3 linked regions of the Homo sapiens genome follow. The protein of the gene in region 1 interacts with the protein of each later gene in a biochemical or structural test. Each region holds a gene or a part of one and is shown in the gene's direction. Other genes may lie near its edges.

Evidence for each region.
Region 2: the proteins of DRD3 (region 1) and CLIC6 form a complex in vitro, tested with the Homo sapiens proteins (one study listed by BioGRID).
Region 3: the proteins of DRD3 (region 1) and EPB41L1 form a complex in vitro, tested with the Homo sapiens proteins (one study listed by BioGRID).

What each region holds. Positions count from the first base shown.
Region 1 is NC_000003.12:114,134,040-114,141,065, reverse strand, and holds part of DRD3 (D(3) dopamine receptor), read left to right. Parts: intron 1-1,369; coding exon 1,370-1,566; intron 1,567-7,026. UniProt on the Homo sapiens protein: Dopamine receptor whose activity is mediated by G proteins which inhibit adenylyl cyclase. Promotes cell proliferation.
Region 2 is NC_000021.9:34,706,981-34,714,006, forward strand, and holds part of CLIC6 (chloride intracellular channel protein 6), read left to right. Parts: intron 1-299; coding exon 300-409; intron 410-963; coding exon 964-1,089; intron 1,090-1,719; coding exon 1,720-1,826; intron 1,827-2,376; coding exon 2,377-2,558; intron 2,559-7,026. UniProt on the Homo sapiens protein: In the soluble state, catalyzes glutaredoxin-like thiol disulfide exchange reactions with reduced glutathione as electron donor. Can insert into membranes and form voltage-dependent chloride-selective channels.
Region 3 is NC_000020.11:36,206,727-36,213,752, forward strand, and holds part of EPB41L1 (band 4.1-like protein 1), read left to right. Parts: coding exon of another isoform or gene 1-1,054; intron 1,055-1,574; coding exon of another isoform or gene 1,575-1,682; intron 1,683-2,761; coding exon 2,762-3,172; intron 3,173-5,545; coding exon 5,546-5,650; intron 5,651-6,610; exon of another isoform or gene 6,611-6,650; intron 6,651-7,026. UniProt on the Homo sapiens protein: May function to confer stability and plasticity to neuronal membrane via multiple interactions, including the spectrin-actin-based cytoskeleton, integral membrane channels and membrane-associated guanylate kinases.

The sequences.
Region 1 (7,026 bases):
GGGCAAAATTCCGTCTCAAAAAATAAATAAATTAATTAATTGATTAATTAAAGAAACGTGTCCAAGATCACACAGTTAATAAATAGCAGACCTGAATCTCACACTGAAGGCTCTCTGGCTTCCACCTACCTCAGAAGACCAAGAAGCAGAATAAGGGTCCTACATGGCCACTGCCCTCTCCCCACCAGCCCACACCTGAGGCTTCATCTTCCAAGGCCAACTTTGAGGTTGGAGAATCCCCAACCCTTTATGAAGACTGGCCGGGTGTACCAACAGTTGTTGCTCACAGTGCTGGATGAAGCACAGATGTTCCATGTCACAATGGTAAAGAGGGATGGGGAGTTAAAATTATAGAAAGAACATTGGCTTGGGCATAAAACTGGCTGCAAGAACATATTTTTCAGGTGCAGCCTTGGGCTACTTACTGAACCTCTCTGAGCTTTAATCTGCTCATCCGAAAAGAGAGACAGTAATAATGGCACCTGTCTCATATAACGTTGCCTTAATTATTAGGTGGGATAAGGGGTACAAAGCTCTTGGCTCATCGCCTGGCAGATATTAGTTTGCTTTTCTTTTCTTTTTCAAGATGGGGCACGTTTCAGGCCCATCTTGGGCCTTGGAGGAATCTCAGCATCTGCTATGAAGAAGGCAAAGCTAGAGGGACCTCCCAAGGAGAAATGGCAGGAACATTTCAGGATATAAAGCAGGGACAAGGACCCTTCTAAGTGCACATTCTCCATGTCACAATATCATTACCTGCCTTTTTCCCATCCCACCTCTGACAAGTGCTGGGATTCCCTGAAAAATCAAATCTCTGTCTTGTATTCAGCCGCCATCTGCCCTCCATCCCAGATTCAAAATTGGAGAACTGGCATTCTCAGCAAATAAGGCTTCTTCCTTTCATTGCATTCAAACAATTCTCCAATGCCTCCGCACCAGCAGGCCCTTTTCTGAGGGCTGCATCCCTCCTGGGAGCCTCTGCCCTGTTGCCCTGTAATGCTCTCCCCAGCCTCCCAGGCTGCATGTCTCTGTGTGACACTTGTGACATCCTATGAAAGGGATCATCTGTCTATCTAGACTGTTTGCTCCCTTGAGAGAAGACATGGTGTCTCATTCATCTTTGTAGCCCCAGTGTCTGGCGTATGATTGTTGGTAACTTTTTATTTTAAGCAAGCTGTAAGAAACTCAAAGATGAATTAGACCTTCTACCCTCAAGGACCTGACAGTATACGTATCTGAGACTGCATCCTTCCCACCCCCTGTGCAGCAGAAAGTGCAGGCACCACACGTGACATGGAGCCGTGTTTTATGCTCCTTACTGAGTTCTGATACTTGCTAACTGCTTTACCTTCCCCCTTCTCATCCACAGGGGACCCCACTGTCTGCTCCATCTCCAACCCTGATTTTGTCATCTACTCTTCAGTGGTGTCCTTCTACCTGCCCTTTGGAGTGACTGTCCTTGTCTATGCCAGAATCTATGTGGTGCTGAAACAAAGGAGACGGAAAAGGATCCTCACTCGACAGAACAGTCAGTGCAACAGTGTCAGGCCTGGCTTCCCCCAGCAAGTAAGTACCCTGGAGGGGGTAGAGGGAAGACAACACCCAATCTCCTGACTTCCCAGCCTGTGTCCAGCAGTGCATGATTTTGCCGTTTAGCTAAATTGGAGACACAAATCTGACACCGACTTTGGAATCTGCTAATTTTGGCTGCGCTTTGAAGGTAGGAAATCCAATCTCAAGAAAACATTGATAGTTGCCTCTAGAGCCTGCCTTACCTGGCAAAGTGATTGGAGAGCTCCTGGGCTTGTTCTGCTTCCCTTCAAAGTCTTTCATTTTCCCCAAATGGGCAGCAGCTCAGATGTCCCACAGGTTTTGAAGTTTAAGTGCAGCAGTTGTACCTTGCACTGCTGGTGGGTTCCCAGAACTGACTTTTTGTCTAAACCACTCATGCCAAGAATCACTGGGGTCCATCAAAGCCTTTTTTCCTTACTGGATCTGTCCGTGTGTCAAGGAACTGACAAGCTGGTGGGATAGGGTGCTGATAAAGCATTTTATTGGATCTTTCTAGGCTCTGAAAAGAAATGTCATTGCCTCTGCAATGATCTTCTAATTGCTAGGGCTTTAATTTCTCCTTACCCCATTGTCTGGCACTTAGTAGTTTTCCCACGATGTACTTGAAGCATGAATGGATATATACCGATCACTTGAAATCTACTAGGGAAGGGACAGTGGTAACATTAAACAGCATCTGCCTTCATGGAGCTTAGAATCTAGAAAAGCAAATAAAGCACCCCTCCACTCAATGTTAATGAAGATCCCAGAGCTGAATAGGATGTTTGCCAAATGTGAGGTGAAGACAATTAAGCACTCAATTATGAAGTGCTCTGGAGGTTATAGAAGAGAAAACCCAATATGCTCAGTGATATGGTTTGGCTGTGTCCCCACCCAAATCTCATCTTGAATTGTAGCTCCCACAATTCCCATGTGTCATGGGAGGGACCCAGTGGGAGGTAACTGAATGATGGGGGTGGGTCTTTCCCTTGCTGTTCTCATGATAGTGAATAAGTCTCACGAGATCTGATGGTTTTATGAGGGGGAGTTTCCCTGCACAAATTTTCTCTTGTCTGCTGCCATGTAAGACGTGCCTTTCACCTTCCACCATGATTGTGAGGCCTCCCCAGCCACATGGAACTGTGAATCCATTAAACTTCTTTTTCTTTATAAATTACCCAGTCTCAGGTATGTCTTTATTAGCAGCATGAAAACAGGCTAATACACTCAGGAAAGGGCTCCATAGACAGAGTAAGAATTGAGTTTGATCTTGAAGACAGATCCAATTTGGGTGTCTAGATTAATCTTTGATGACCTAGATAATCTTTTTTTTTTTTTTTTTTTTTGAGACAGAGTCTCGCTCTGTCACCCAGACTGGAGTGCAGTGACATGATCTCAGCTCACTGCAGCCTGTACCTCCTGGGTTCAAGCGATTCTCGTGCCTCTGCCTCCCGAATAGCTGGGATTACAGGTGCCCACCAACACATCTGGCTAATTTTTTTTTTTTTTTTTTTTTTGAGACGGAGTCTCGCTCTGTGGCCCAGGCGGGAGTGCAGTGGCGCAATCTCAGCTCACTGCAAGCTCCGCCTCCCGGGTTCACGCCATTCTCCTGCCTCAGCCTCCCGAGTAGCTGGGACTACAGGCGCCCACCATCACGCCCGGCTAATTTTTTTTTTTTTGTATTTTTAGTAGAGACGGGGTTTCACTGTGTTAGCCAGGATGGTCTCGATCTCCTGACCTCGTGATCCGCACGCTTCGGCCTCCCAAAGTGCTGGGATTACAAGCGTGAGCCACCGCGCCCGGCCACATCTGGCTAATTTTTGTATTTTTAGTAGAGACAGGGTTTTTCCTTGTTGGCTAGGCTGGTCTATAATGCCTGGCCTCAAATGATCTGCCCACCTCAACCTCTCCAAGTGCTGGGATTACAGGCATAAGTGCCCAGCCTGATGACCTACATTATCTCTGATGACCTGTTAAGGTCTTTGATGATGTCAAAAGTATGAATGAAGGTCAGACTCTTAAGTTGAAGTCCCAAGGCTTGAGTGAAACAAGACTATTAATCCCCATGAAAGAGGAGATCAAGACCCAAGGCTGAGGATATGAAAGTATTGCATTCAAAATATTATCATGTCCCATGGCTATCAATGACATGGCTAGACCCACAACTAACTGTTCCTTCTTCTACACCCCCTGCCCAGTCTTCTTGTCTGCACCTGCACCCCATTCAGCAGTTGTCAGTAAGGGCCTGATTTCCATCACATGCCACAGGAAAAATGGTAAGTGGGCCATGTCTGATCATAGAGAAAGAATAAGAGACCTTTTCCCACAATACTGGCTTATCTTGATTCTACTCTCACCCCAGAATGAAACCTTACCCTGATTCCCACACATATATCTATAAGACAAGATCTGAAATTCTTCCTAATTTAAGCTTCAGAATAGAATTCATCAGAAGATATTGAGAAAGCATATGACTATTGGACTTGACCTTAGTGACTGGAGCCAATGACTCTTGCACACGGTGTGACAATGCCATCCAAGGCCACCTGCATTAGAGGAAACAGACGTCAAGGGAACACACATGGACAGAGCAAAAACCAGGCAGAGAAAGGAAAATTTCAAGTGCCATATTTACCACTGAATGTGGGAAAAACCAAGACAACTTCATGGTCACCATTAGCCTTGTTCTTCCAATTCAAGCCAGGCCTGCCTCGCCCAGCTAGCAGAGTGCAGAGTGGAGTCTGGAGGTGTTAGATATGAGAACAGTATTCCTCTCTGAATTCCACATTAGAAATAAAACTTCAAAAATTTGTAATAATTAAGGTCTGAGCTTTGTTCAATCTCAGTATAGTTAATGACTTTCTACACAGGCCTGGTGTGGTAATTGGAGATAATCATTTTAAACGATAATAGCTATGCAGCTCAAAGTTGCCTATGGCTGATCCAAGGTCTAAGGAGGCTTCAAGGCCAAGAGGAGGAAAAATATTGAATACAAAAGAGAGATCAGACAGCCAAGAGACTGGCATTTCCAAGAGTGTGGAGAATTAGGTTCTGTCCTGCCATCTGGGAGTGGAGGGCTCTGCCAGCCAGACCCAGAGGAATCCAGTGTTTCCTCATGTCAGTCATGGAAGTAGTGATCAGGTTTTGCAGACAGAGCTGAAAAATACACTCACCAATATATAATCTTGGAAGAATCATTTTCCTACTATAGGACTGAATTTCCATATCTGTAAAATGGAAACAGGGTATACTAGATCAATGTTTTCAAATATGAGGTTTTTTTGTTTTTGTTTTTGTTTTTGAGACAGAGTCTCACTCTGTTCCCCAGGCTGGAGTGCAGTGGTGTGATCACAGCTCATGGCAGCCTTGAACTCTTGGGCTGCACCCAGCTAATATGAGATTTCTTAGGCAATCCCAAGAATTTGTTTCCCATCCCCTAGTTTTAGAAATAATGCGTTAGAAGTCAAATATTGTCACTTTAAGAAGATCAGTAGGTGCCAGTTTAATTGTAAACATAATCTTGGGGCCGCGTGTGGTGGCTCACGCCTGTAATCCCAGCAATTTGAGAGGCCAGGATGGGCAGATCACCAGGTCAGGAGTTCGAGACCAGCCTGACCAACATGGTGAAACCCCATCTCTACTTAAAAAAATACAAAAATTAGCCGGGCATGGTGGCATGCACCTATAATCCCAGCTACTCAGGAGGCTGAGGCACAAGAATCACTCTAACCCAGGAAGCAAAGGTTGCAGTGAGCAGAGATTTCACCACTACACTCCAGCCTGGGCGACAGAGGGAAACTCCATCTCAAAAACAAACAAACAACAACAAAAAAAAACAAACAAAAAAACACACCATAATCTCTGTTGTAAATAGGCATTCAGATAAAATGAAATATGCTTATTTTAATTATTAGAAAATGCCATCAAACTAAAAACCAAAAAATGTTAAATATGTATTCTCTTAACTTGACGTCATGTTAAGTGAAATAAGCCAGACATAGTAAGACAAATATCGGCCGGGCGCGGTGGCTCACGCCTGTAATCCCAGCACTTTGGGAGGCCGAGGCGGGTGGATCATGAGGTCAAGAGATCGAGACCATCCTGGCTAACAAGGTGAAACCCCGTCTCTACTAAAAATACAAAAAATTAGCCGGGCGCGGTGGCGGGCGCCTGTAGTCCCAGCTACTCGGGAGGCTGAGGCAGGAGAATGGCGCGAACCCGGGAAGCGGAGCTTGCAGTGAGCCGAGATTGCGCCACTGCAGTCCGCAGTCCGGCCCGGGCGACAGAGCGAGACTCCGTCTCAAAAAAAAAAAAAAAAAAAAAAAAAAAAGACAAATATCACATGTTCTCAATCACATATGGAAGCTAAAAAAGTGGTTATCGTGAAAATAGAGAGTAGGTTCATGGTTACCAGAGGCTAGGAAGGAGATGGGGGAGGGGGCGAGAAAGAGAGGTGGATTCAGGGGTACAAACATACAATTAAATAGAAGGAACAAGTTCTAGTGTCTAATAGCACAGTAGGGTGACTACGCTTAACAACAGTTTTTATATATTTCAGAATACCTAGAAGAAAAGATTTGAAATGCTCCCAACACAAAGAAATGATAATTGTTTGAAGTGATGACTAGCCTGATTTGATCATTACACATTGTATGCATGTATCAAAATATTGCATTTGCCCCACAAATATGTAAAATTATTATATATGAATTTTTAAAATCTTCAAGAAAAAAATGTATATTATTCTAGAATTCCTAAGAATACCTCTGTGGACCACCATTTAAAAAAAACTCTAGGCCAGATGCTGTGGCTCATGCTTGTAATCCCAGCACTTTGGGAGGCTGAGGTAGGTGGATCACTTGGGGTCAGGAGTTCGAGACCAGCCTGGCCAAAATAGTGAAACCCCATCACTATTAAAAATACAAAAATTAGCCAGGTGTGATGGTGGGCGCCTGTAATCCCAGCTACTCAGGAGTCTGAGGCAGGAAAATTGCTTGAACCTGGGAGGCAGAGGTTGCAATGAGCCGAGATCATGCCACTTCACTCCAGCCTGGTGACAGAGTGAGACTTTGTCTTAAAGAATAAATAAATAAATAAAAATTTTAAAAACTTAAATTGGCTGGGCATGTTGGCTCACACCTGTAATCCCAACACTTTTGGAGGCCAAGACAGGAGGATCACTTGAGCCCAGGAATTTGAGACCAGCCTGGCCAACATAGCAAGACCTCATTTCTACTAAAAATAATAAATAAATAAATAACACTAAATAGTCTTGAAGACCGCTTGCATTCATTCATTCATTCTGAGTATGTACAATGTGCCAGTTCTGTGTACCTAGAAGACTGCTTCCTTGAACTAAGGAAACCAAAGCGAGGGGTTTTTGTTGCTGACACTGAATAACTTACGTAGAAAACAAATTTACTGGAAAGCTGTCAGGTGGCTCACAGGCTCAATGAGAAGGCTGAAGAACAGCTT
Region 2 (7,026 bases), on another chromosome or scaffold:
GTGAGCTGCTGCTCAGAGGCCCAGTGTGGCAGGCAGTGGTGAGGTGGTGGGGAAGGAAGAAAGAAAATGCTCAGTGCAGTGCATACATGTGCATGTGCGTGCGTGTGTGGTGTTCTCTCCCCTAACCCCTACATCCACCGCCAACTCCACATTGAGGCTGGTAAAATGGCCTCAGGAGGATATTCGCAGCATCCTGACCGTTCTTATCAACCTGCAATGATTTTGCATGTGCATGTTGTGGTGTTGGCACTTATAATTGTGAGACTGGCTCAGATAGAAATCTCCTTCTCCACTTGTAGGCTGGTTATGATGGTGAGAGTATCGGAAATTGCCCGTTTTCTCAGCGTCTCTTTATGATTCTCTGGCTGAAAGGCGTTATATTTAATGTGACCACAGTGGACCTGAAAAGGTAAGACAAGGCGTCTGCCTTACTGAAATAACTGTACCTAGTTCTCTGCACACACACACACACACACACACACACACACACCTGAGGCCAACGGTGCTGCATGGGCACGTCCATCCTCAGTCGGAGTCTGAACTGAAGCCCACATGTGGGCCAAGCAGTCATGACAGGGTCGGCTGGGCTGGAGTCAGGAAGGAGGAGGAGTTGGGGGTGCCGTGAAGAACCTGCTTCTCCAGTTGCTGGTCAGCTGTGACTCTCCCAAGCCTGTCTGAGCACCATCCCTGGCTGATAACACTGGGGAGAGTTAACTTTTTCACCTCTGTTTGTTGATATGCCCCTTTGTGCTCCGTATTCACAAAGGGGCACCTCAACAAGCCCATCATTTGTTAATGAATGCCTTTACTTTCATCGCCAGCAAGACATTTTCATAAACCCACCATCTACTTTGCAGTTCTCAAGAGTTGCTTCTCTTAAACTGGTGAGGACGCGGCTAAGCCCTGGAAATGAGTCCAGATTCTCACGGTGGCCCATAAACACTGCTGTTTCCTCCCACCTAGGAAACCCGCAGACCTGCAGAACCTGGCTCCCGGAACAAACCCTCCTTTCATGACTTTTGATGGTGAAGTCAAGACGGATGTGAATAAGATCGAGGAGTTCTTAGAGGAGAAATTAGCTCCCCCGAGGTAGGCCTCAGAAAACCAGTGTTCATAACTTGATTGTCACTTTCCCCCACTAGTAGTCAGTTCTAAAGCTCTGGGCAGTGTGTGTGTGTGTGGTTTTCTGCAGCCCACGGTGCTCACTTCCTTAATCATAACCCTGGTGTAACCAGATTAGAGTTCGGGGACCTGGGTTTCATTGTGCTGCACCTGCAGCTTGGCAATCACAGTTTGATGGCAGGAAGTGGGAGGAGATGGGTCCAGGGTGGGTGGTTGGCTGTATCCTAGACACCCTGCTGGAAGCTATGGAGTATGTGTTAGGAAGAAGTATCATGGATTTTTGGACCTCGGGGGAGCTATTTCTACTCCATCCCCTTCGTTTTACTAGGGAAGCACCTGAGACCAGCAAGGCCAGGTGGGGTCCTGTGTCCCAGAACTGGCCACTGCCAGGAAACAGCAACAATCCAAACCTCTCCGTCCAGTGCCATTCTCCTAGATGTTGTTACTTCCCAACCTTTGAGAGGAAAAGGGTCAGGAAAACGTTGAAGGAAAGCTTTTCATTTTTATGCCCAGAGAAAGCTGTTTTTCTCCATTGTATAGTATTATCTTCACTAAAACATCACTTGTCTGTGATCCTCCAATTTTGAACTTTTCAAGGTATCCCAAGCTGGGGACCCAACATCCCGAATCTAATTCCGCAGGAAATGACGTGTTTGCCAAATTCTCAGCGTTTATAAAAAACACGAAGAAGGATGCAAATGAGAGTGAGTACCTCCCATCCTCCTGTTTTGTTTCAACACAGACTTGAGTCTTAGCATGGCGGCCCATACGCTCCTGGGGTATTCCCATCTATTTCCCAGTGGGTAGAGAAGTGAGTCTGGAGCTACAGAAAAAGTGCCTCCAACTTTGAATCTGCACGTGGGCTTCAAGAGATGAATGCTTCTTTTGAGGCTGGGAACTCAGAAAACAACATTTTTAGGGAAAATAGTCATCACCCAGGTGTTCCGGACACACCATGGGAATCATGTTCAATGATGTTTCTGCCAGTCCACGTCTCCCCACAGGCTTTCCATAAGTATTTTTGAATAAATAAATCACTTCTAGAAGGAGCAATATTGTGTAGACAGCAGTGTGATTTTCCAGGGAGGAGTGAGCCCTTTATTCAGATATTCTACATCCACCTGCTGCCTTCCCAGCACCCATTGCTTGCTGGCCACATCTCAGCGAGGAAGGGAAGCAAACTCCATCACAGCTGGTGAAAAGTGACATGCACTTGCAAACCTCTCTTTGTGATTTCTTGCCCTTCTGTTTTAGTTCATGAAAAGAACCTGCTGAAGGCCCTGAGGAAGCTGGATAATTACTTAAATAGCCCTCTGCCTGATGAAATAGATGCCTACAGCACCGAGGATGTCACTGTTTCTGGAAGGAAGTTTCTGGATGGGGACGAGCTGACGCTGGCTGACTGCAACCTCTTACCCAAGCTCCATATTATTAAGGTTCATCTTCCCTCCCGACACGTGTGCCGAGTACACGAACGGGGCTTTGTTTTATTTTGTTTTTACTTGTGTTTGGGCCAGACATTTAAACAGTCTGAAATGTGGAGACTTGGATTAAAAACACTAGTTCTGTTCGGGGCAGCCAAGCCCCAGCTTTCACACACACAGAAGATGGGCTTCGGGTGTTCTCAGAAAGTGCCTGGGAACATGGCCCCACCTTCTGCTTCTCTCTCAGCCTTACTCACACAGCCTAAAGACAGGTTATGTGAAAGCAGCCTGAGGAATTTCGTAGATTATACCTGGTGTTAGCAATTGAGAATTAGAGATGAGGCTCGTAGAATCTGGGGCTATTCAAATGTGAACGCAGTCTACTGTTGGTGATTGTAGGGCTCCACATGGCCCCTTCTAGGGATGACAGAGGAGTGTTCTATTAGCTTTTAACAGTGACCCTTGGCCAGGTGCAGTGGCTCATGCCTGTAATCCCAGTGATTTGGGAGGCTGAGGTGGGAGGATTGCTTGAGGCCAGGAGTTCAAGACCAGCCAGGGCAACATAGCGAGACCCCATCTATACAAAAAATAAAAAAAAAAAATTAGCTGGGCATGGTGGTGTGTGCCTGTAGTCCCAGCCACATGGGAGGCTGAAGCTGGAGGATCACTTGAGCCCAGGAACCTGAGGCTGCAGCAAGTTAAGGAGGTGGCACTGCACTCTGGCCTGGGTGACAGAGTGAGACCCCATCTCTAAAAACAATTAGGTTATTAATTATTTATTTATTTTAAAAAAACATTGACCCTCAACATCCAGGAAGCAGCTGGCAGCTTTTGGCTGAGTCTCTGCCATATTTGTTGCCCTGCCTTCCCATATAGTAGCTGAACATGATTTAAGAGCCATGAGTCATGTATTATTAGGGCTTAAAGACCTGCCAGACCCGTGGTTCTCCAATGTTAGTAGGCATACAAACTGTCTGGGGAGCTTTTTAGAAATGTGAGTCCCCGGGCCAGGCATGGCGGCTCACGCCTGTAATCCCAGCACTTTGGGAGGCCAAGGCGGGCAGGTCACGAAGTCAGGAGATCGAGACCATCCTGGCTAACATGGTGAAACTCCCTATCTACTAAAAATACAAAAAATTAGCCAGGTGTGGTGGCGGGCACCTGTACTCCCAGCTACCTGGGGGGCTGAGGCAGGAGAATCGCTTGAACCCGGGAGGCAGACATTGCAGTGAGCCAAGATCACACCACTGAACTCCAGCTTGGGTGACAGAGCAAGACTCCGTCTCAGAAAAAAAACAAAAAACAAACAAACAAAAACCCCAAAAAAACAAGAAATGTAAGTCCCCGACCCACTGCCTGCGCTAGTAAATCGGAGCTTCCAAGAGTGACCCCTGGAGCTCCAAGCGGATATCCCCACACTCGGACTCTGTAGCTGTTGCTGTCTCTCAGCACAGCAGCGCTCCCAGCCGCTCTATCACTTATAGAAGTTGAATGTGATTGCTGTGATGAGATTGCTATGTCCTTGGCCCTTAGCAGCTCCAGATACCTCAGGAAGAAGCCCATGCCTGGCTCTGGGGCATTTTTATGATTAAAATCCTGCCAGGGCCAGAGCCAGGTGGTTGGTATAAGTGTAGGGGAGATGGGAGAAACACCAGGAAAAATAAGTCATGGACTGTTTGTTCTAATAACACATTTAGTTAGCATTTAGAAATTACAAGGTAGCGGCCAGGCGCAGTGGCTCATGCCTGTAATCCCAGCACTTTGGGAGGCCAAGATGGGCAGATCACTTGAGGCCAGGAGTTTGAGACCAGCCTGGCCAACATGGAGAAACCCTATCTCTACAAAAAATAAAAAAATTAGCTAGGTGTGGTGGTGTGCGCCTGTAGTCCCATGCATTTGGGAGGCTGAGGCACGAGAATCATTTGAACCCAGGAGGCGGAGGTTGCAGTGAGCACTCACTCCAGCCTGGGCAACAGAGCAAGACTCTGTCAAATAAACAAACAAATAAATAAATAAATAAATAAATAAATAAATAAATAAATAAATTACATGTTAGCTTCACACAGTCTATGGTGCTGAGGCTCCTGTGGGCTCCCGGCCACCCCTGGTGACTCTGCTTCATTCTTTTGCCTTTGTCTTCCTGCATTTCTTCTTTCTATCCTCTTCCCCTCTCGGTCCTGGCCCTGTTGCTCCCTTCTTCTCCCTTCCTTTTTGTGCGTGAGGATACTGACTTGAAATGCAGGCCTTCAGGAGGTTGCTGATCCCTTGGGCAGATGTCTTTTCAATAGCTTTGCCAGTCCACCAATATCCAAAATTTAATGAAAGCATCTCCACCCCTCAAAACCTGCTAAATTTGGGAGCTGCCTTCTAACAGGATATTTATGTAGCTGTGTTTTGATTGAGTCCCTTTTGGTAAATGCTTTTTAGTCCCTACTGTGACCAGCGTAGCATTGCAGAAACACATGAAACTTGAAGAAGAGGGGGAGAAATATCCCAGCCACAGAGCATTCATGGCCCCTTGTTTAGCTCCCATGAGAAAAGACGATTTTAAATTTCAGTAGAAAGGGTAAGCTTTAGAGTGAGATTGCAGTTCATGGCTCCACTATAAGACCCAGAAGAAAAATCTGCAAGGCCATTTAGCACTCACAATACCCAACAGCTTAATGATCTTCCAGGATGGAGTACTTCTGAAAGGAAATGAGAATCAATCTAAGGGAATTATGGTAAAAGATGAGAGTGTGAAGGGATTTATAATTTATTCCCCTGCCAGAAACCCAGCAAAAACAATATCAAAATAGGGTATTAGCTTCATCTTTTTTGTAAAACTACAAAGGGATGACAGATCATCGACTTAAAGAGTAGGAAGCTTCTTTCAGTGGGAGGAGCCACAGAACCATTACATGTTTCTCCGTATCTTTAGCAAAGTTCAGATTTCTCAAAAGGTAAAGAACACAGTCCTGAAATACCCAACTCAAACTTCTTTGCTTGAGGCCTAGAGCATGAGATGGGCCAGGAGGGAATCACAGAACTTCCCTATAGAGACCCTTGTTGAGCTGAGATCTCTAGGGAGGCAGAATTGAAGGAGGAGCCACACAGAGACGCCATCTTTCTAGGCTGTGACCCAGCACCTAATCCAGAGGAACAGTCTGGAGGGGAGGTAAAGAGGGAGGAAAGGAGGGAAGTGGCATTTTGCATTGTGACTGCTGAGCAGAGAAAAGAATCTAGGCCCCAGCCAGTCAAGAGAGAGACTAGAATTGCCCAAACTTCGTTTCTAGCCACAGTGGCCTTCTGCCTAATCTGTGAGCCTCAGAGTGGAGGATGCCCTAACCCTAACCCTAACCCTAACCCTAACCCTAACCCTAACCGTAACTCTAACCCTAACCCCAGCCCTAACCCCAACTCTAATGTGTCTCTCTGGGGCAGAGCAGTGGTTGGCGACAAGGTGCTTGGGAGCAAATATTCCAGTTGGTTGGCCACCTGCCCTGTCTCACTCCCTTTGCCCTCCCCACTGCTTTTAAGCAAATGATAGGTCCAGTAGATCTGCCTCATTCAAAGAAGGCCAATACCAGAGAGAATGCCAGTGAGACCTTGGGGTAGACAGAGTTGATTGAAAAGAAGGGGGTGGGGGGAGGAATGATAAAGACAAGAAACAAAAACAGAAAAAGACAGATGGGAAATACATATATGATCAAGAACTGCTCCTCCAGCACATTAAAGAACGTTTCTTACAGAAATTTTTCTACAGCCTCAAAGAAATGAAAGAGAATATGGGCTTTTTGAGAAAAATCTCAAAGACAAGACACAAGATGTTCAAAAATATATTATCACAAAGGGGATGGAAATCAGGCTGGAAGAGCTCAAGAAGAAAAGTAAAGACAAATAAAAGAACTGCAGAAATAAAAGTCCTGTTAGAAGCAGTAAGACACAGACGAAGACATTGCTGAAATTGATTTCCTCTGACATTCGCACACATCTTATAGAGTTGGTTTTGGCATGTGGAATGTGTTTGTAGCCGTGCTGTCAGTGATTTGGAAGACAAGCCTGAGAAAAATCATCTAAAATCAAGTGGGGAAGAATAAAAAAGGTGATTAGAGAGATCCCAGATATACATGATCAGGAACAAGAGAACAGAAAAGGAAAAGGAAAGGAAAAAAAAATAAAAGAAAACGAGAGAATGTTCAATGGGGAAATTACTTTGAACTAAAGGATGACCTGAATCTTCAGTTTAAATGACATGCCATGTTAAACATTGCCCCAGAAAGATCAACACACTGAGACATACTTGATACATTACTGAGCTTTGAGAATAAAAAACAACCCTTTTTGGCACCTAGACAATAATAATACTGTAATACCAACAACAGTAATAATAATAAAAAGAATGAAATAGAGTAAAGCCAGTGAAACAGGGAAGAAATTCAGACTGGCCCCAGATGTCTTCATGAACCCATTAAAAATCAGAAAATTGTGGTTTAACATC
Region 3 (7,026 bases), on another chromosome or scaffold:
GTTTGCTGAAGGCTGGGAAGATGCCCAGTGGGGAGTGGAAGGAGAGTTTCCCCACCTGACAGCCAGCGCAGCCCGAGAGGAAGGGACCCCCGTGAGTGGAGATTTGCTGGGAAAGGCTGAGGAAAGTCCCACAGAGGAACTGAAGAAGCACCCTCCTCACAGAGGACAGGGCGTGCATCCCGACCCCCAGGCCTGCGCCCTTCCTCGGGCCATCCCTCTGAATGTCAGGAAGCCAGTCAAACCAGACAGAGGCAACTTCCCACCCAAAGAGAGGGGAGTGGTTCCCACCCAGAAAGGAGGGGCTGAGCTGAAGGACCGCGAGGCTTCAGCATTTCTTCACATGGAGGTGATCATTCCCCTGCCAGCCTCCCCTGGTCATTCTGAGGACCTGGCAGCTCTGGAGGAAGCTTCTCCAAGCCCAACCTCCCATGGGTCAGGGGAGCCTTCGGAGCTCAGGGAGCCCTTTCTTAGACATGTCCATCTTTCGAAAGCCAGCCCAGAGCCCAAGGACCAAGTAGGGTTTGTGGTGTCCCCTGCCACAGGAGGTGAGCGCAGGCCTCCTCCCATCACCAGCAGAAAGCCCAGAGTAGTCCCTGAAGAAGCTGAGGGGCGCATACCTCTGGGGTTTGGGTTCCCTTCAGGGAAGCGAAGGGAGATGACCTCTTTCCAGGCTGGGGACCAAGAGGGCTCCCTAGAAGATATTAGCAAGACCTCAGTGGCCAACAAAATTCGGATATTTGAGACCCACGGAGCTGAAACTCGCCGAATGAGTGAGGGTGAAGCAAGGTCCCTTCCAAATGACGTATCTTCAGAGGCACCCGTGGGACAAGCAGAGCAGCAGCGGAGTACGCTCTCAGACCTGGGCTTCGCCCAACTCCAGCCCCCAGGGGACTTTGCCAGCCCCAAAGCCACACATTCCACAGTGATACCTCTGGCTACCAGACACTTCAGGGAGGACACTTCTGCATCCTACCAGGAAGCACACACGGAACTAGAGCCCGTGTCCCCCAATTCAGGCTGTGAAACCACGCTGGCAGAAGCTACTGGAACTGGGGTAACTGGCCGCGTGAGCCCCCGCCCCCACCGCTGCTCCCCGCCCATGGGGGCTGGCCGCATGCTCTGTAGTTTTTAGAAGCATGTTTCAGTGGCCCCTCGTCATTTCTGCAATCAGAGGCTGCTTATCCATCCCTGTGAGTTTTTTCCCTAAACGGGCCTGGGTGTAGCTCAGGCTGAATGATGGGCTTCTCTGCTTGGCCCATGTTAGCTTGGCCACAAAGACCCTCAGCTTTTGGTGTGACCTGGTGCCCAGAGGGTCACACAACCCCCATGGAGAAGGTGGCGCCACCACCAGCAAATGACACACCTGCTTTGCCTTGCCGCTCATACCCGCTGGGTTCCTGCCTACCTTGCTTGGCTTGTCCAGCGATCTTTCTTCATCCTTTCCCATCCCTGGTTCTCCCGCCTTGGGAAAGTTGACAGTCCAGAGGTTTCCATCCTTCACTTCTGGTTCCCTCTCAGTCCCAGTGCCAAGTTTCTTTCTGCCTCCTTAAGACTAACTGTCTTCTCTAATCCAGAACAAATCCGGAGATGCGGTCAGGGAAGAGAAGCGCTCCACCAACTTAGCAGCCAACACCCCTGGGAAGGGGGGGCGCCTGAGATTTGCCAGCCCCTCGGGCCCTCAGGTCTCTGCAGCCCCTCTGTGCCCTGATGACCCAGTCACCTTCACCCGGCCAGGATGCATCGCCGCCTTAGGTTCCCACCTGCTGTGGCAGCACCTCTCGTGCTGCTCAACTCTGGCTTGTCTGGAATGTCTCCCTCACACCTCTCAACCTTCCAGAAACTGGCTAAATGGAGGCTCGCTTAGCAAGTGAATGTCTAAGCCCACTGAATCCCTAGAACCAGAAGCCAAGTTCTTTACAAATCTTTCATGGGTATTAGGTTGGTCTTTAAAAAGAATGTTATGAACCAGCCAAAAATGTGTGTGTGGTGTTTAATCCCTGACAGGCCAGTTGAGAGGTATGTATGTCGGACAAGAGTTGCTGGTTCCCCGAGGCACTGCCTTGGCCCGCTGTTGTCAATTACACTGATGGGACCAGAGCCTCTACTCCCTGACTTGCCTGTGGTCCACTCATGGAGCCCAGGGTGGAGCTGGCGTAGCACTCAGCTCCCAAGAAGCTCGTGCCCAAAAGGCCTGACCCTGAATTGCTCTTCTCTCTAGTCGATGCTGACCCCTCCCCCGGAGACTCAGTGGAATTGACAAACATGTTGGCTTCCTCTTTTGTTCCTCAAAGTTCTTGGCTCCAACCTCTCTGCCTTCCCTTCCTGGGTCTCCCTGAATCCCTGGATCTCCCTCCTTAGTTTCTGTTTCTCAACGCCCACCTGCACGGATGGGCCTGGGGTCCGGGCTTCCATCCCTGCCTTTCGTGCAATGCTGCTTCCAATAAGCTCCCAGATCCAATACCCTTGGATGGAGCCTCCTGTCCAGGAGTCACTGGCAGGACGTTTGCTTTGTACTTGCTTTTGCCATCAGTGTGAGACCCTCAGAAAGGGGCATCTCCACTCTTGAGTCGTTTTTGTTTTTTTTATGCTTGTTATGATTTCAAGGAACCTTTCCTGGGGTGTTTTTCATTTCCTGGCCTGCTCTTCCATTCAGGATGTCGACACAGCCCCGAGATTTCTCCTGACATTCACCATCTTGATTTCTCTTTCTCTCTCTCTCCCCACCCCACATCCCCATTCTTTTGATTTTATCTGGCCATAGAGAGCAGGGCTGAGGGAGGGCTCCGAGGAGAAAGTCAAACCACCACGTCCCCGGGCCCCAGAGAGTGACACAGGCGATGAGGACCAGGACCAGGAGAGGGACACGGTGTTCCTGAAGGACAACCACCTGGCCATTGAGCGCAAGTGCTCCAGCATCACGGTCAGCTCTACGTCTAGCCTGGAGGCTGAGGTGGACTTCACGGTCATTGGTGACTACCATGGCAGCGCCTTCGAAGACTTCTCCCGCAGCCTGCCTGAGCTCGACCGGGACAAAAGCGACTCGGACACTGAGGGCCTGCTGTTCTCCCGGGATCTCAACAAGGGGGCCCCCAGCCAGGATGATGAGTCTGGGGGCATTGAGGACAGCCCGGATCGAGGGGCCTGCTCCACCCCGGATATGCCCCAGTTTGAGGTACAGTGGAGCTTCCTCAAGAGCCAGGCCCGCTGGGCACCGCATGCTCAGAGGGCCCTGGGCCACCCGTGAGAAGACCGAGCACCCAGCCTGCAGCCTGAAGCTCTGTCTCGTGTTGCATGACTGCCCCTCCGCAGAACAGCATGGTTCTGTGCTCGCATGTTTGCCATCTCGGTTTACCCCTAACACGCGCTCCTTGGTATTTTAACCCTGTGACCCCATCGCTTGCTGAAGTCGAGCGATGACAGGTAGTCTGGTCTTTCTTGACCCCATGCCCCCCCACCTGTGTTGCATGGCACCTGCAGAGAGCATGCGTCTGTGGACTCTTGGGGGCTCCTGCAGCCTGGTCTGAAAGCTGAATGGTTTTTCCTGATCCGGGCCCAGGCTTGTCTCTCTGGGGTCTGGGCTTCCCGGGGAAGGGGAAGCAGTTTAAATCCATCTGGCCCTGGGGTCTCAGGGTGGTAATGGAAGCTCCTGGAAGAGAGGAAATGTGGTCATTGAGGAGGGACAGACTGTCTCTGGGCCTCTCTGTGGTCTCCTCTGTAGAGCTGTGAAGGGATTTCTCTAAGGCACGCCTGCCCATATCATTCCTTTGCCCCCTCATCTCTTCTAGACCCAACCTCCCTCCTACACTCTCCTTTCCCCAACATTCCTGGCATTGAAATATGAGCTTAGCCACTCTGGGCTCTCACTTCATGCTATATTCTCTGAGCAGGTTTTTTTTTCTCCCTTTCGGTGCCTTACAAACCTATCATGTTCCAGGACCAAGTTCAAATGTCAGTTTCCTAGCAGGGGTTTGCTTTCCTGACCACCCTGGGCAGAAATATCGCCCCCCTACCCCCTTGCCCTGTAATGCCTATGCTCCAGCACTATCCAAAGCGGTCAGGTCAGTGGCTGACAAGCCTGCTCTCCCACCAGGTGGCAGCTCCTCTAGGCCTGGCATATACTAGGCACTAATAGATGATTAACTGGATGAATGGCTGGGTTACAGGGTTGCAACCATCTATAAGAATCCCCTTCAGCCAGGCACAGTGGCTTGTGCCTGTAATCCCAGCTACTCAGGAGCTGAGGCAAGAAGGCAGGGGGATCACTTGAGCCCAGGAGTTCGAGGCTACAGTGAGCTTTGATCGTGCCACTGCACTCCAGCCCGGGCGACAGAGTGAGACCTTGTCTCTTAAAAACAAAACAAAACAAGAAAAAAAAAATCTCCAGGCACAGTGGTTCACACCTGTAATCCCAGCACTTTGGGAGGCTGAGGCAGGTGGATCACCTGAGGTCAGGAGTTCAAGACCACCCTGACCAACATGGTGAAACCTTGTCTCTACTAAAAATACAAAAATTAGCTGGGCGTGGTGGCACCCACCTGTAATCCCAACTACTCGGGAGGCAGGAGAATCACTTGAACTCAGGAGGCAGAGGTTGCAGTGAGCTGAGATCACGCCATTACACTCCAGCCTGGGCAACGGAACGAGATTCCATCTCAAAAAACAAAACAAAAACAAAAACAAAACTATACTCAGAGGTCATAGTCACAGCTTGCCATACCCAAATGGACCCCACATGCTCTCTACTTCACCCCAGTCCTCAACAAACCCTCTTCACTCATTGACATCTCCTGCCTGGATGCTGTAGGCCTCCAAGCATGTGTGGCTCTTGCTCTAAAGAAGAGTCCAGGCTGGGCACGGTGGCCCACACCTGTAATCCCAGCACTTTGGGAGGCTGAGGCAGGTGGATCACTTGAGGTCAGGGGTTCAAGAACAGCCTGGCCAACATGGTGAAACCCCGTCTCTACTAAAAATACAAAAGTTAGCCGGGTGTGGTGGCATGAGCCTGTAGTGCCAGCTACCTGGGAGGCTGAGGTAGGGGAATCGCTTGAACCTGGAAGGCAGAGGTTACAGTGAGCCGAGATCGCACCATCGCACTCCAGCCTGGGCGACAAAGGGAGAGTCTGTCTCAAGAAAAAAAATAGAAGAGTTCAGCTGAAGCGGCTGAGAGGTGGTGAGCTCACCAGGATTTGGTGACATTATGTACACAAGGAAAACACTTAGCCCAGGGCCTGTCATAGAGTATGTTAATGAAATGGTAGATGTTCTAATAGTAGCCTAAAAAACAGCATATAGCCACCATGAGGGTGTGTGGCACAGGGGCGCAGGGCAGGCCTGCCTGGTCCTGGTGGTGGTCCTGGCTCTCCTCGCGGGCTATCTGTCTATGATATCACACCACAACTCTTTTACCCTGTCCAGAGTACCCTTCCAGAGATGTGGCCAGCTGTGGGGATAGGAGATAGCCTGCAGACACCACACTGCAATTGTCTGTGAGCAAGGGTCATGCTAGGGTTTCAGTTACAGAGCATTCTCCCTCCTTTTCCTACAGCCCGTGAAAACAGAAACCATGACTGTCAGCAGTCTGGCCATTAGAAAGAAGATTGAGCCGGAGGCCGTACTGCAGACCAGAGTCTCCGCTATGGATAACACCCAGGTAACTTGTGCCTTCCAATGTACCCTAAGCATGGGTATTGGGCATTTGGTGGTAGGGTCCCCACTGCTGTGGCCAAACCCCTTGGCCAGCTCTTTTAATCTCAGCTTCCCTGGAACCCATATGTTAATCCTGATGCTCTCCTGTGCCTCAGTGTCCTCTCTGAGCTCTGGGGAGGGGCAACGGGTAAAGCAGGTTCCTGTCCTGGGCAGACCATACTTCTTAAAGCCTCCATTTAGCCATCCATAAAATGGGAATGACCCTGTCTACCCCTTCCTCCTGGGCATATTGGGAGGACTGTACTGACTAGTGGATTGGGACCTTGGTGTTCACATTGCTTGGAGGAGTTGGAGAGGTTTCTTGAGGTATCTCAGGGGCTGCTTGAGGAGAGAAGAGGGAGAGATCCCAATTCAGCTTCAGTCAGAATAGCTCACCTTGGGTCATTTTTTATGCATTAGAGTTCCACATCAGATCAGTAAAATGAACAAAGTGAAAGAAGAAAACCGAAGATCATGTGTCTTGACAAGAAGCAGCATCCTGACCACCTGGAGAAAGCCGTCAGGCATAGGCACAGGCCCACGACTTCCAGTCCATTCCCTGCACTCCTTCCATGCTTTTTAAACTTAGGAAGTTAAGATTGAGGATCTGATAGATGCCCTCCTGGTTTTTCCTGGCCAGAAGAGCTACAATGCTAGGAGCTTTTTTGCTCTGAGACTAACCTTTTCCTGAAGAACTGAAATAAGACCAGGCACAGTGGCTCACATCTGTAATCCCAGCACTTTGTGAGGCCAAGGCAGGCAGATCGCTTGAGCCCAGGGGTACAAGACCAGCCTGGGCAATATAGGGAGACCCCAGCTCTACAAAAAATACAAAAATTAGCTGGGCATGGTAGCACATGCCTGTAGTCCCAGCTGCTCGGGAGGCTGATGTAGGAGGATCACTAAAACCCAGGAGGTCGAAGCTGCAGTGAACTATGAGCTATGATTCCACCACTGCATTCCAGCTTGGGTGACAGGGAAAAAAAGAGAGAGAAAGAGAAAACTGAAATAAGACATAAACCAATACAACATGGGCAATTCTTTTGTTTCCAGATTTCTTTCTCCCACTTTTATAATGATGGTAGGAGTTTATGAGGCCGTCTACTACAGGTCAGGACTCTTGAGTTCTGATGAGCTGTGTGACCTTGGGCAAGCTGCTTCCCCCACTGACCTGTTTTGTTTTAGTAACACGTGTTTCTGTTGTGTTTTCATACAGAAAAGTATAAAGAAACTAAAATTGGCCCTAGATCCCACAGCCCAGTAACCCTTATTGACATAAAAACAAAACAACAAAAAAAGTTTATAGTTATACAATTCAAGCAGAACAAAATGGGATTTTTC